Linked DNA regions of Homo sapiens: all the other regions are linked to region 3. The links come from fine-mapping of genetic effects on gene expression. A gene starts in region 3. Each other region holds a variant in brackets. All regions are shown on one strand. Distances are from middle to middle. Region 1 overlaps TGM4 (transglutaminase 4). Region 2 overlaps KIF15 (kinesin family member 15). Region 3 holds the start of KIAA1143.

Region 1 (4,000 bases), 130 kb after region 3:
CTAGTTGGGAGGCTTAGGTGGGAGAATCACTTGACCCCAGGAGTTCAATGCTGCAATGGCACTCAAGGCTACTTCTGCCATCGCCAGCACCAGCTTCTCTCCAGAGGGTGCTGGACATCTTGCAGCCTCAAATGTGGCACATCCTATGTCAACCCTTTTCCACACCTGCCCTTTCTCCTGGGGCCTTCCTGAAGTCAAAAGCCATCAGATGCCCATGCTAGAAGCCAGTTGCACTCCAGCCTGGGTGAGAGAGAAGGACTCTGTCTCAAAAAAAAGGGGGAAGAGTAGAGCTGGGATTTGAACTGAGAGCCTATTGCTCCTATGAGTTATAATAATAAGCATCTCATGGGAGGACCTTGGACCACAAATGGAAGTGTATTGTGACAAGGATGAGAATTATTATTCTTGGTACCATTGTGGCTACAGCAATATTGATGTATCCTAATTATCTCTCCAGCTATTATTTATCCTAAAAGGCTGGATAGAGGCCTGGACGCCCTTGGACCAATGGCCTTCTGGGACTCTGGCTGCCTGTATTCCAAGAGAAAGGTGTTTTTTTTTGCTCCAAAAGACAGCTGACATTTAACCTTTCCCCTGAAGTTCCAGACACTGGGCTAGGCACCTGTATTAGTCCATTCTTGTACTACTCTACTACTCTAAAGAATACCTGAGACTGGGTAATTTATAAAGGAAAGAAGTTTAATTGACTCACAGTTCCACATGGCTGGGGACACCTCAGGAAACTTACAATCATGGCAGAAGAGGAAGTAGGCACATTTTACATGGTAGCAGGTGAGAGAGAGCGAGAAAGAGCAGGGGAAACTGCCTTATAAAACCATCAGAGCTCATGAGCACTCACTGACTATCATGAGAACAGCATGGGGGAAACTGCCCCCATGATTCAATCACCTCCCACCAGGTCCCTCACTCAACATGTGGGGATTATGGGGATTACAATACGAGACGAGATTCGAGTGGGGACACAGAGCCAGCCATGTCAGCACCTTATGCGTACTTTATCCACAGCATCTTCCCAACAACCTGGAGATGGTATCACCTCCAGGCTGTGGTGAAGCAAGTGGTGAAGGGAGTGAATCTCAGGGAGGTGAAAATGCCCAGTCTCTCCAGGGCCCTTGCAAGACGTGCCAAAACTTCATGCTGTATGGAGCTGCTTTTCTGTCTCATGCATCCTGCCCTTGCAGGGGCGCTCCTGGCTGTCCAGGGTCCTGACCATTCCTTGTCTCCAGGCTGGTTCCAGATGGGATGAGTTGTTAGGACTGACGGATTCTTCTGGGAAGCATTTGTAAGATTTGGGATCTGGCCAGAGGGGGAGATGTCCACCTTATCTTATGGTTTGCTCAGGTCACAGTGGCTGTCACCAGTTCCCCCAATGCCATCCTGGGCAAGTACCAACTAAACGTGAAAACTGGAAACCACATCCTTAAGTCTGAAGAAAACATCCTATACCTTCTCTTCAACCCATGGTGTAAAGGTACTGTGAATCTCAGGTCTGCTGGGGAATGGCAGGTGACCCCGG[C/T]AAAACCTGCTATGTGCAATGCATAGTCTATGAGCTTTTGTTTGCTCTCAAGGTACTTGCAAACTAGTTTAAGGGATGTGACCCAGGAACAGATCACAGACACCAATGGAGCGTTTTCTTTGTGACCAGGCCCCTTAGAATGGAGGTCCTTATTCCCTGTTTCCACTTCTCCCCAGTGCCTCGCCCTGCCCCAGCTGGCTTCTGCCTCCACCACTGTACAGAGGCTGCCTTCGTGGGGGTGGGGAGGGGCCACCAAGGACTTCTTCCTTGCCAGCTCCAGGTCAGGGCCTGAATTGTGGTTGGTTCCTCCCTTCTGCTCCCTTAGTTCTGTTCTCTTCTCTCCACTTCCTCATGTACCCACCTCATTTCTTCCTGTGGCTACACTGGAGCCTTTATGTAAATGGTGCTTGAGGCTACTTCTGCCATTACCAGCACTGGCTTCTCTCCAGAGGGTGCTGGACATCTTCTTGCAGCCTCAAATGCGGCACATTCTATGTCAACCCTTTCCACACCTGCCCTCTCTCCTGGGGCCTTCTTGAAGTCAAAAGCCATCAGGTACCCATGCTAGAAGCCAAGGAGCTCTTTTTTTTTAACTTGTATTTGGAAATGATTTTGAGCTCACAGAAAAGTGGCAAAAATGATGTAATGAACAACCTATACCCTTTATCATCCAGGCTCACCTGTTGTTAACATTTTGCTCCATTTGCTTAATCATTTTCCCTCCCTCCCTCCTCTACACACACACACACACACACACACACACAAGCTTTTTATTTTTGAACCATTTGAGAGTAAGTTACATATAAGTTGGTTCTTTACAACCCCTAAACCCTTCAATGTGTATTCCCTAAGAACAGGGATATTCTCTCATATAACCACAGTACAGTTATCAACTTCAGTAAATTAAGTGTTAGCAGCCAGGCGTGGTGGCTCACGCCTGTAATCACAGCACTTTGGGAGGCCGAGGTGGGCGCATCACGAGGTTGGGAGATCGAGACCATCCTGGCTAACACGGTGAAACCCCATCTCTACTAAAAATACAAAAAAATTAGCCGGGCATGGTGGCGGGCGCCTATATTCTCAGCTACTAGGGAGGCTGAGACAGGAGAATGGCGTGAACCCGGGAGGCAGAACTTGCAGTGAGCCGAGATTGCACCACTGCACTCCAGCTCTGTCTCAAAAAAGGAAAAAAAAAAATAGGCCAGGCGCGGTGGCTCATGCCTGTAATCCCAGCACTTTGGGAGGCCAAGGCAGGCGGAACACAGGGTCAGGAGATCAAGACCATCCTGGATAACATGGTGAAACCCTGTTTCTACTAAAAATACAAAAAATTAGCTGGGCCTGGTGGCATGCACCTGTAATCCCAGCTACTTGGGAGGCTGAGGCAGGAGAATCGCTTGAACCTGGGAGGTGGAGGTTGTAGTGAGCTGAGATCACGCCACTGCACTCCAGCCTGGGTGACAGAGCGAGACTCTGTCTCAAAAATAAATAAATAAATAAATAAAAATAAATAATTAAAAAAATAAGTGTTAGCATAACACTTTCATCTACTATCTATATTCCAGTTTGGTCACTTTTTTTTTAATTTTTTTTTTTTTTTTTGAGACGGAGTTTCACTCTTGTCGCCCAGGCTGGAGTGCAATGGCGCAATGGTGCGATCTTGGCTCGCTGCAGCCTCTGCCTCCTGGGTTCAAGCAATTCTTCTGCCTCAGCCTCCCAAGTAGCTGGGATTACAGGCACATGCCACCACACCCAGCTAATTTTTGTATTTTTAGTAGAGACAGGGTTTCGCCATGTTGGTCAGGCTGGTCTCGAACTCCTGACCTCAGGTGATCTACCTGGCTTGGCCTCCCAAAGTGCTGGGATTATAGGCATGAGGCACCGCACCCAGCCGGTCACTTGATTTTATCATGTACTTTATAGCATTGTTTTCCCTCCAGTACAGGATCCAATCTAGAGTCACATTTTGCATGTAGTTATGTTTACCTCCTTTAATCTGGAACAATTTCTTTATCTTTCTTTGTCTTTTTTGACATATTTTTGAGGACTAGAAGTCCCCTTTTTTAACAGATCATTCATCATTTGGGTCTGTCTGATGATTCATCATCTTTAGATTCAGGTTACGCAGTCCTTGCTGGATATTATGTAAACGACATGTCCTTCTTGGAAAATCATATCTGGAGGCACTGCCTGCCCCTCATTGGGAATGTTAAATGTGATCATTTGGTCAAGGTGTTGTCCAGTTTTTCTGCTATATAATTACTATCTTTTTCTTTTTAACGAGTAGTCTATGTGGACACATTTTAAGACCATCCAAACATCCTGATCCTTATTAAAATTCTCCACCCCTAGATTTAGCATCCACTGATGGTTCTTGCTTCAACCATTCTTCACTGTGATGGTTGCACAGTGATTTTCCAAGGCCAGCTCTCCACCATGTTTACCTGCTAGCCCCTGGCATTT
Region 2 (4,324 bases), 60 kb after region 3:
TTTCTGTTTTTTTTACATTTGCTGAGGAGTGCTTTACTTTTAACTATGTGGTCAATTTTGGAATAAGTGCGATGTGGTGCTGAGAAGAATGTATATTCTGTTGATTTGGGGTGGAGAGTTCTGTAGATGTCTATTAGGTCCGCTTGGTCCAGAGCTGAGTTCAAGTCCTGGATACCCTTGTTAACCTTCTGTCTCATTCATCTGTCTAATATTGACAGTGGGGTGTTAAAGTCTCCCATTATTATTGTGTGGGAGTCTAAGTCTCTTTGTAGGTCACTCAGGACTTGCTTTATGAATCTGGGTGCTCCTGTATTGGGTGCATATATATTTAGGATAGTTAGCTCTTTTTGTTGAATTGATCCCTTTATCATTATGTAATGGCCTTCTTTGTCTCTTTTGATCTTTGTTGGTTTAAAGTCTGTTTTATCAGAGACTAGGATTGCAATCGCTGGTTTTTTTTGCTTTCCATTTGCTTGGTAGATCTTCCTCCATCCCTTTATTTTGAACCTATGTGTGTCTCTGCACGTAAGATGGGTCTCCTGAATACAGCACACCAATGGGTCTTGACTATCCAATTTGCCAGTTGGTGTCTTTTAATTGGGGCATTTAGCCCATTTACATTTAAGGTTAATATTGTTATGTGTGAATTTGATCCTGTCATTATGATGTTAGCTGGTTATTTTGCTCGTTAGTTGATGCAGTTTCTTTTTTTTTTCCTTTTTTTTTTTTAAACTTTTATTTATTTTTTATTGATCATTCTTGGGTGTTTCTCACAGAGGGGGATTTGGCAGGGTCACAGGACAATAGTGGAGGGAAGGTCAGCAGATAAACAAGTGAACAAAGGTCTCTGGTTTTCCTAGGCGGAGGACCCTGCGGCCTTCCGCAGTGTTTGTGTCCCTGGGTACTTGAGATTAGGGAGTGGTGATGACTCTTAACGAGCATGCTGCCTTCAAGCATCTGTTTAACAAAGCACATCTTGCACCGCCCTTAATCCATTTAACCCTGAGTGGACACAGCACATGTTTCAGAGAGCACAGGGTTGGGGGTAAGGTCACAGATCAACAAGATCCCAAGGCAGAAGAATTTTTCTTAGTACAGAACAAAATGAAAAGTCTCCCATGTCTACCTCCTACTACACAAACACGGCAACCATCCGATTTCTCACTCTTTTCCCCACCTCTCCCCACTTTCTACTCCACAAAACCGCCATTGTCATCATGGCCCGTTCTCAATGAGCTGCCGGGCACACCTCCCAGACGGGGTGGTGGCCGGGCAGAGGGGCTCCTCACCTCCCAGTAGGGGCGGCCGGGCAGAGGCGCCCCTCACCTCCCGGACGGGGTGGCTGGCCGGGCAGGGGGCTGACCCCCCCACCTCCCTCCCGGACGGGGCGGCTGGCCGGGCGGGGGGGCTGACCCCCCCACCTCCCTCCCGGATGGGGCGGCAGGCCGGGTGGCGGGCTGACCCCCCCCACCTCCCTCCCGGACCGGGCGGCTGGCCGGGCGGGGGGCTGACCCCCCCACCTCCCTCCCGGACGGGGCAGCTGGCCGGGCAGAGGGGCTCCTCACTTCCCAGTAGGGGCGGCTGGGCAGAGGCGCCCCTCACCTCCCGGACGGGGCGGCTGGCCGGGCGGAGGGCTGACCCCCCCACCTCCCTCCTGGACGGGGCGGCTGGCCTGGCGGTGGGTGACCCCCACCTCCTTCCTGGACGGGGTGGCTGCGGGGCGGTGACGCTCCTCACTTCTCAGAC[G/A]GGGCGGCTTCCGGGCGGAGGGGCTCCTCACTTCTCAGACGGGGCGGTCGGGCAGAGACGCTCCTCTCCTCCCAGACGGGGTTGCGGCCGGGTAGAGGCACTCCTCACATCCCAGACGGGGCGGCGGGGCAGAGGCGCTCCCCACATCTCAGACGATGAGTGGCCGGGCAGAGACGCTCCTCACTTCCTAGATGGGATGGCGGCCGGGAAGAGGCGCTCCTCACTTCCTAGATGGGATGGCGGCTGGGAAGAGGCGCTCCTCACTTTCCAGACTGGGCAGCCAGGCAGAGGGGCTCCTCACGTCCCAGATGATGGGCGGCCAGGCAGAGACGCTCCTCACTTCCCAGACAGGGTGGCGGCTGGGCAGAGGCTGCAGTCTCGGCACTTTGGGAGGCCAAGGCAGGCGGCTGGGAGGTGGAGGTTGTAGCGAGCTGAGATCACGCCACTGCACTCCAGCCTGGGCAACATTGAGCATTGAGTGAACCAGACTCCGTCTGCAATCCCGGCACCTCGGGAGGCCGAGGCTGGCGGATCACTCGCGGTTAGGAGCTGGAGACCAGCCCGGCCAACACAGCGAAACCCCGTCTCCACCAAAAAAATACGAAAACCAGTCAGGCGTGGCGGTGCGTGCCTGCAATTGCAGGCACTCGGCAAGCTGAGGCAGGAGAATCAGGCAGGGAGGTTGCAGTGAGCTGAGATGTCAGCAGTACCGATGCAGTTTCTTCCTAGCGTCGATGGTCTTTACAATTTGGCATGTTTTTGCAGTGGCTGGTACTGGTTGTTCCTTTCCATTTTTAGTGCTTTCTTTAGGAGCTCTTGTAAGTCAGGCCTGATGGTGACAAAATCTCTCAGCATTTGCTTGTCTGTAAAGGATTTTATTTCTCCTTCACTTATGAATCTTAGTTTGGCTGGATATGAAATTCTGGGTTGAAAATTCTTTATTTAAGAATGTTGAATATTGCCCCCCACTCTCTTCTGGCTTGTAGAGTTTCTGCTGAGAGATCCGCTGTTAGTCTGATGGGCTTCCCTTTGTGGGTAACCCGACCTTTCACTCTGGCTGCCCTTAACATTTTTTCCTTCATTTCAACCTTGGTGAATCTGACAATTATGTGTCTTGGGGTTGCTCTTCTCGAGGAGTATATTTGTGGTATTCTCTGTTTTTCCTGAATTTGAATGTTGGCCTGCCTTGCTAGGTTGGGGAAGTTCTCCTGGATAATATCCTGAAGAGTGTTTTCCAACTTGGTTCCATTATCCCCATCACTTTCAGGTACACCAATCAAATGTAGATTTGGTCTTTTCACATAGTCCCATGTTTCTTGGAGGCTTTGTTCATTTCTTTTTACTCTTTTTTCTCTAAACTTCTCTTCTCGCTTTATTTCATTGATTTGATCTTCACTCAGTGATACCCTTTCTTCCACTTGATCGAATCGACTGTTGAAGCCTTGTGCAGGTGTCATGAAGTTCTCATGCTCTGGTTTTCAGCCCCATCAGTTCATTTAAGGTCTTCTCTACACTGTTTATTCTAGTTAGCCATTCGTCTAATCTTTTTTCAAGGTTTTTAGCTTCCTTGCATTGGGTTTGAACATGGTCCTTTAGCTTGTCGAAGTTTGTTATTACCGACCTTCTGAAGCCTACTTCTGTCAACTCGTCAAAGTTATTCTCGTCCAGCTTTGTTCTATTGCTGGTGAGGAGCTACAATCCTTTGGAGGAGAAGAGGCGCTCTGGTTTTTAGAATTTTCAGCTTTTCTCCTGTGGTTTCTCCCCATTTTTGTGGTTTTATCTACCTTTGGTCTTTGATATTGGTGACTGACAGATGGGGTTTTGGTATGGATGCCCTTTTTGTTGGTGTTGATGCTATTCCTTTCTGTTTGTTAGTTTTCCTTCTAACAGTCAGGTCCCTCAGCTGCAGCTCTGTTGGTGTTTGCTGGAGGCTCACTCCAGACCCTGTTTGCCTGGGTATCACCAGCGGAGGCTGCAGAACAGCAAATATTGCTGCCTGATCCTTCCTCTGGAAGCTTCGTCCCAGAGGGGCACCCACCTGTATGAGGTGTCAGTCGGCCCCTACTGGGAGGTTTATCCCAGTTAGGCTACACAGAGGTCAGGGACCCACTTGAGGAGGCAGTCTGTCCATTCTCAGTGCTCAAACACCGTGTTGGGAGAACCACTGTACTCTTCAGAGCTATCAGACAGGGATGTTTAAGTCTGCAGAGGTTTCTGCTGCCTTTTGCTCAGCTATGCTCTGCCCCCACAGGTGGAATCTATAGAGGCAGCCGGCCTTGCTGAGCTGTGGTGGGCTCCACCCAGTTCAAGCTTCCAGGCCGCTTTGTTTACCTACTCAAGCCTCAGCAATGGCGGATGGCCCTCCCCCTGCCAGGCTGCTGCCTCACAGGTCGATCTCAGACTGCTGTGCTAGCAGTGAGTGAGGCTCCGTGGGCGTGGGACCCACCGAGCTAGGTGCGGGATATAATCTTCTGGTATGCCATTTGATAAGACCATTGGAAAAGCTCAGTATTATGGCAGAAGTGTCCCATTTTTCCAGGTACAGTCTGTCATGGCTTCCCTTGGCTAGGAAAGGGAA
Region 3 (4,324 bases):
AGGAGGTCAAGGCTGCAGTGAGCTGTGATTGCACCACTGCACTCTAGCCTGGGCGACAGAGTGAGACCCTATCTCAAAAAAAAAAAAAAAAAAAAAGTCCTAGATGGCATCTTCTTCCAATAGAAGGCTGTTTCATCTACATTGAAAACCTGTTTAGTGTAGCCACCTTCATCAACTATCTTAGCTAGATCTGAATAATTTGCTTCTTCATCTCATACTTTTATGTTATGGAGATGGCTTCTTTCCTTAAACCTCATGAACCAACCTCTGTTAGCTTCACACTTTTCTTCTGCAGCTTTCTCACATGTCTCAGACTTCACAGGATTTAAGAGTTAGGGCCTTGCTCTAGATTAGGCTTTGGTTAAAGGGAATGTTGTGGCTGGTTTGCTCTTCTATCCAGACCACTAAAACTTTCTCTGTATCAGCAATGTAGCTGTTTTGCTTTCTTGTCATTCATGTGTTCAATACTGATCCCTCCGGCCCTAGACAACAATAGTCAGGTGTGGCTCTTTCCTGAAGCTCCTCTTCTTCTATTTAGACCCAGGATATTTACGGCTTCTGCTTACTCTTCTTTTTTTTCTTTTTTTTGAGACGGAGTCTCGCTCTGTCGCCCAGTCTGGAGTGCAGTGGCGCGATCTCGGCTCACTGCAAGCTCCTCCTCCTGGGTTCACGCCATTCTCCTGCCTCAGCCTCCCGAGTAGCTGGGACTACAGGCGCCCGCCACCATGCCTGGCTAATTTTTTGTATTTTTAGTAGAGACGCGGTTTCACTGTTTTAGCCAGGATGGTCTCGATCTCCTGACCTCGTGATCTGCCGCCTCAGCCTCCCAGAGCGCTGGGATTACAGGCGTGAGCCACCAGGCCCGGCTTTTTTTTTTTTTTTTTGAGACGGAGTCTCGCTCTGTTGTCCAGGCTGGAGTGCAGCTGCGCCATCTCAACTCACTGCAACGTCCACCTCCCGGGTTCGAGCGATTCTGTCTCAGCCTCCGGAGTAGCTGGGACTACAGGCATGTGCCACCATGCCCGGCTAATTTTTGTATTTTTAGCAGAGACGGGGGGTTTCACCATATTGGCTATTGGCTCTGCTGGTCTCGAACTCCTGACCTCAGGTGATCCGCCCACCTAGGCCTCCCAAAGTACTGGGATTACAGGCGTGAGCCACTGTGCCCGACCTTCTCTATATTATTTTTATTTATTTTTAATTAACAAAGCATAGAAACAGATTCAGGACATTCCTCCGAAGACGTTCCAGACTCGAGTCCTAGGACATGGTTGGGGCGGGGGTCATTTGATCGAGTGGCCTGTGTCCTTATCTGGAATACGGGACGACGCTGTAACTCTAACTCACCCTGCGAACTCACAGCTTTTGAGGTAAACAAGTGAGAAAGAAGAGACAATAAAGTGATCTTTCTTTACCATCTACCAAGGACCAGGTGGTTTACACGTCAGTTCATTTTCAGGAACACAGCAGCGCTCTGAAAACTACAGAGCTTCCTGGGCGTAGGGGGCTGTGGTCGCTTGAAAAGAACCAGCCTGGGGGTCCGAGTTCCACCGGAATTGGGTTCGAGCGCGGGTGAAAAGAGGGACCCGACAGCACCCACCCTCCAAGTAGAGGCAAAAGTTGAAAGTGGCGGGCTGGCTGCGCTTCCGAAGAAACACGACTGGCGAAGGCTCACCTTAGTCTCTACGGTGGGTCCCTCCCTGTAGCCGACCCGTTCCTTGAAGCGGGCCAGAAACGCCGGCTCGGCTGGCCGCACGTACGATACCTGGTTCCGCTTGCTCATGGTAGCTCTGGGTAAAGACAGAAGACAGGTTCCGCGACGGATTCGCGACGATACAGAGGCGCTTAGCTGTGACGTCACTGGGCCACGCCCCCGATGCGTAGGCCGGGCAACATGGCGGCCTCCATGCGGGCGTCAACGTCCGATCCAAGCGCCAAATTCAAATTTGCGGCCATCTTGAGCGGGCGGAATTCAGTCGCGCGCGGTGCAGTCGGGAGGTGGAGGCACCGGCTGCATTGTTTTCGGGATCGAGGGGTGAGGGCGCTATGGCACCCGGCTGCAAAAGTAAGTCTGGGCCCCCGGCTTCGTTACCCTATTTTTGCCCCCAAATACAGCTGTGAAAGGATGGCAGCCTCGGACCGCCCGCAAGGTTCTTGCTAGGCATGAACTGCAGGAGCTGAGTGACCGGCGGGGACGTTTGGGAATCCCGCTCTGTCGCTCAAAGACAATACGCTAGCCGAAAAGCTCATCCCTTCCTTCAGTGTCCTGTGCGCATGCCAGGAGTCTGGCGCAGTTCTAGGCGCTCGGGATGAGCAGTGGACCTGACGTTCTTCCCTTTCTTTCCCTTGGTTCTGCTGTTTCTTCGCAGGCCTCTTCCCACATCCCGACCAGGGCTACCTCTCTAGATATCCTTGTCTCAGGATCGGCTTTTGCTCCCACCAGCTTCTGCGTATTTCTACATTTCTGACCTTCCTATAGGGAAGGGTTTATTTATATTCCAAACATTTCTTTCTCCTCTTTCCTTAAATAAATGGAATGTTAAAACACAGATGTCAGCAATGTCTTTATGTTCTCACAGTCTCTATTTTCACTTAAAGGAGACCCGTCCGATTTCTTTCTCTTTTTCACGGAGGAGAGCACTGTCATTTTGCTTATGATAAACCCTACAGTTTTCACTAACGTAGTCATTTGCTGTGCCTGTGTACGTGCTCCACTTCTCACATTGCCACATCTCTTAAGGAGTCTTATTTTTGTAAACCTGATTATGAGCTGATTTAATGGGATCTTTGTGAGTGGTCTGAATGGTAATGAGGAGAGGCCTGGATTAGATGATTAAGAATTTGTGAACTTCTGTCATTTGAGCTTTCCAACGCCGTTAATGTTTCTAGCTTTCTGTCAATTGTAGTCGTTTTTGATGGGTTTGTTGTTTCATTAATCTTTTAGGTCGATCACACCTAATCGGAACACCTCCTTATGCTACCTTTTTGCATATAAAATATTCCTTTTCCTTTCATCATTTTCAGTATTCAAGGACTATGAGCTCACAAAATGGTACCTTATTGGAGAGAAATGTTCATCCTGCTTTCTGAACAATCATACTGTTTGTTCTTTGTTTCCACTTTATGGATCAGTCACTAAATCTGGACTCAAGCAAAAAATTTGATGCCTGTTAAATAAGTAAAACATCTGCTTATTTAATGAGATATATGTATGTGACTGAGGGCTCTTGTCTGAAAACCAAATTTGAGAACCTTTCTAAAGTGGTGGGAGCACTCTCCTTTATGATGGTGGTGATGCCATGGGGAACTTTTCCACTCCTTTAAGTTTGTTGGCAAAATTGAGGTTGATGACTTCCCAGTTAAAGTGCTTCTTGCATTCCCAGCAGCCCAGAGGCCTGGAGCATGAAGTGGGAACACATGGGAGAAGAGAGCCCGTGCAGTGGTCTTTGCAACTTTTACTTTGTGCCCCGAAGGCTATCTCTCTCTCTCTTTTTTATTTTTGAGACAGAGTCTTGCTCTATTGCCGGGCTGGAGTGCAGTGGTGCGATATTGGCTCACTGCAACCTCCGCCTCCCGGGTTCAAGAGATTCTCCTGCCTGAGTCTCCCAAGTAGCTGGGATTACAGGCACGCGCCACCATGCCCAGCTAATTTTTTTATTTTTAGTAAAGCCGGGGTTTCACTGTGTTGGCCAGGATGGTCTCGATCTCCTGACCTCGTGATTTGCCCACCTTGGCCTCCCAAAGTGCTGGGATTACAGGCATGAGCCACCACACCCGGCCCCATGAAGGCTATCTCTAGTGACATCATTGACACCATGAGTTGCTGACTGTGAAATCAGAGAAATGAAAAAGTGAAATATACGATTCCCCCCTTTTTTTTTTTAAAGACAGTGTTGCTCTGTCACCCAGGCTGGCTGGAGTGCAGTGACGCAATCTTGGCTCACTGCAATCTCCACCTCCTGGGTTCAAGCAGTACTCGTGCCTCAGCCTCCCAAGTAGCTGGGACTACAGGCGTGCACCACCATGCCCTGCTAATTTTTTGTATTTTAGTAGAGACAGGGTTTCACCATGTTGCCCAGGCTGGTCTTGAACTCCTGAACTCAAGCAATCCACCTGCCTTGGCCTCCCAAAGTGCTAGGATTACAGGCGTGAGCCACTGCACCTGGCCTAAGATTCCCTTTCTGAACCCAATCATGTTTGGGCAAATGACTGATGAGTATTTATCTAGACTGCAGAGTAAAGCATCCAATGGTCTGTTTTAAAGCAGGAAGACTCTTTAAAAGACTTACTGTTTTGTTGAGGTATAGCTTCATGCAGTTAAGGG

The links. PIP is the estimated chance that this variant, and not a neighbour inherited with it, causes the effect.
Region 1: its variant is the best candidate, but not a certain one, in a credible set for the expression of KIAA1143 in monocytes (BLUEPRINT, PIP 0.57).
Region 2: its variant is the best candidate, but not a certain one, in a credible set for the expression of KIAA1143 in lung (TOPMed, PIP 0.79).

The regions. Positions count from the first base shown.
Region 1 is chr3:44,889,241-44,893,240 of GRCh38, forward strand. It overlaps TGM4 (transglutaminase 4), which reads left to right. Exons shown (of 14, transcript NM_003241.4): 4 at 1,363-1,492. Among named protein-coding and RNA genes, the nearest start is that of TGM4, 17 kb to the left of the region's middle. The variant C/T (reference allele first, on the strand shown) is at 1,538.
Region 2 is chr3:44,819,622-44,823,945 of GRCh38, forward strand. All of the region lies in intron 20 of KIF15 (kinesin family member 15), which reads left to right. Among named protein-coding and RNA genes, the nearest start is that of MIR564, 40 kb to the right of the region's middle. The variant G/A (reference allele first, on the strand shown) is at 1,747.
Region 3 is chr3:44,759,820-44,764,143 of GRCh38, forward strand. KIAA1143 reads right to left here and starts at 1,800. Exons shown (of 3, transcript NM_020696.4): 1 at 1,676-1,800. The coding sequence starts at 1,783. KIF15 (kinesin family member 15) reads left to right here and starts at 1,975. Exons shown (of 35, transcript NM_020242.3): 1 at 1,975-2,065. The coding sequence starts at 2,047. RefSeq lists enhancers at 313-955, 1,746-2,025.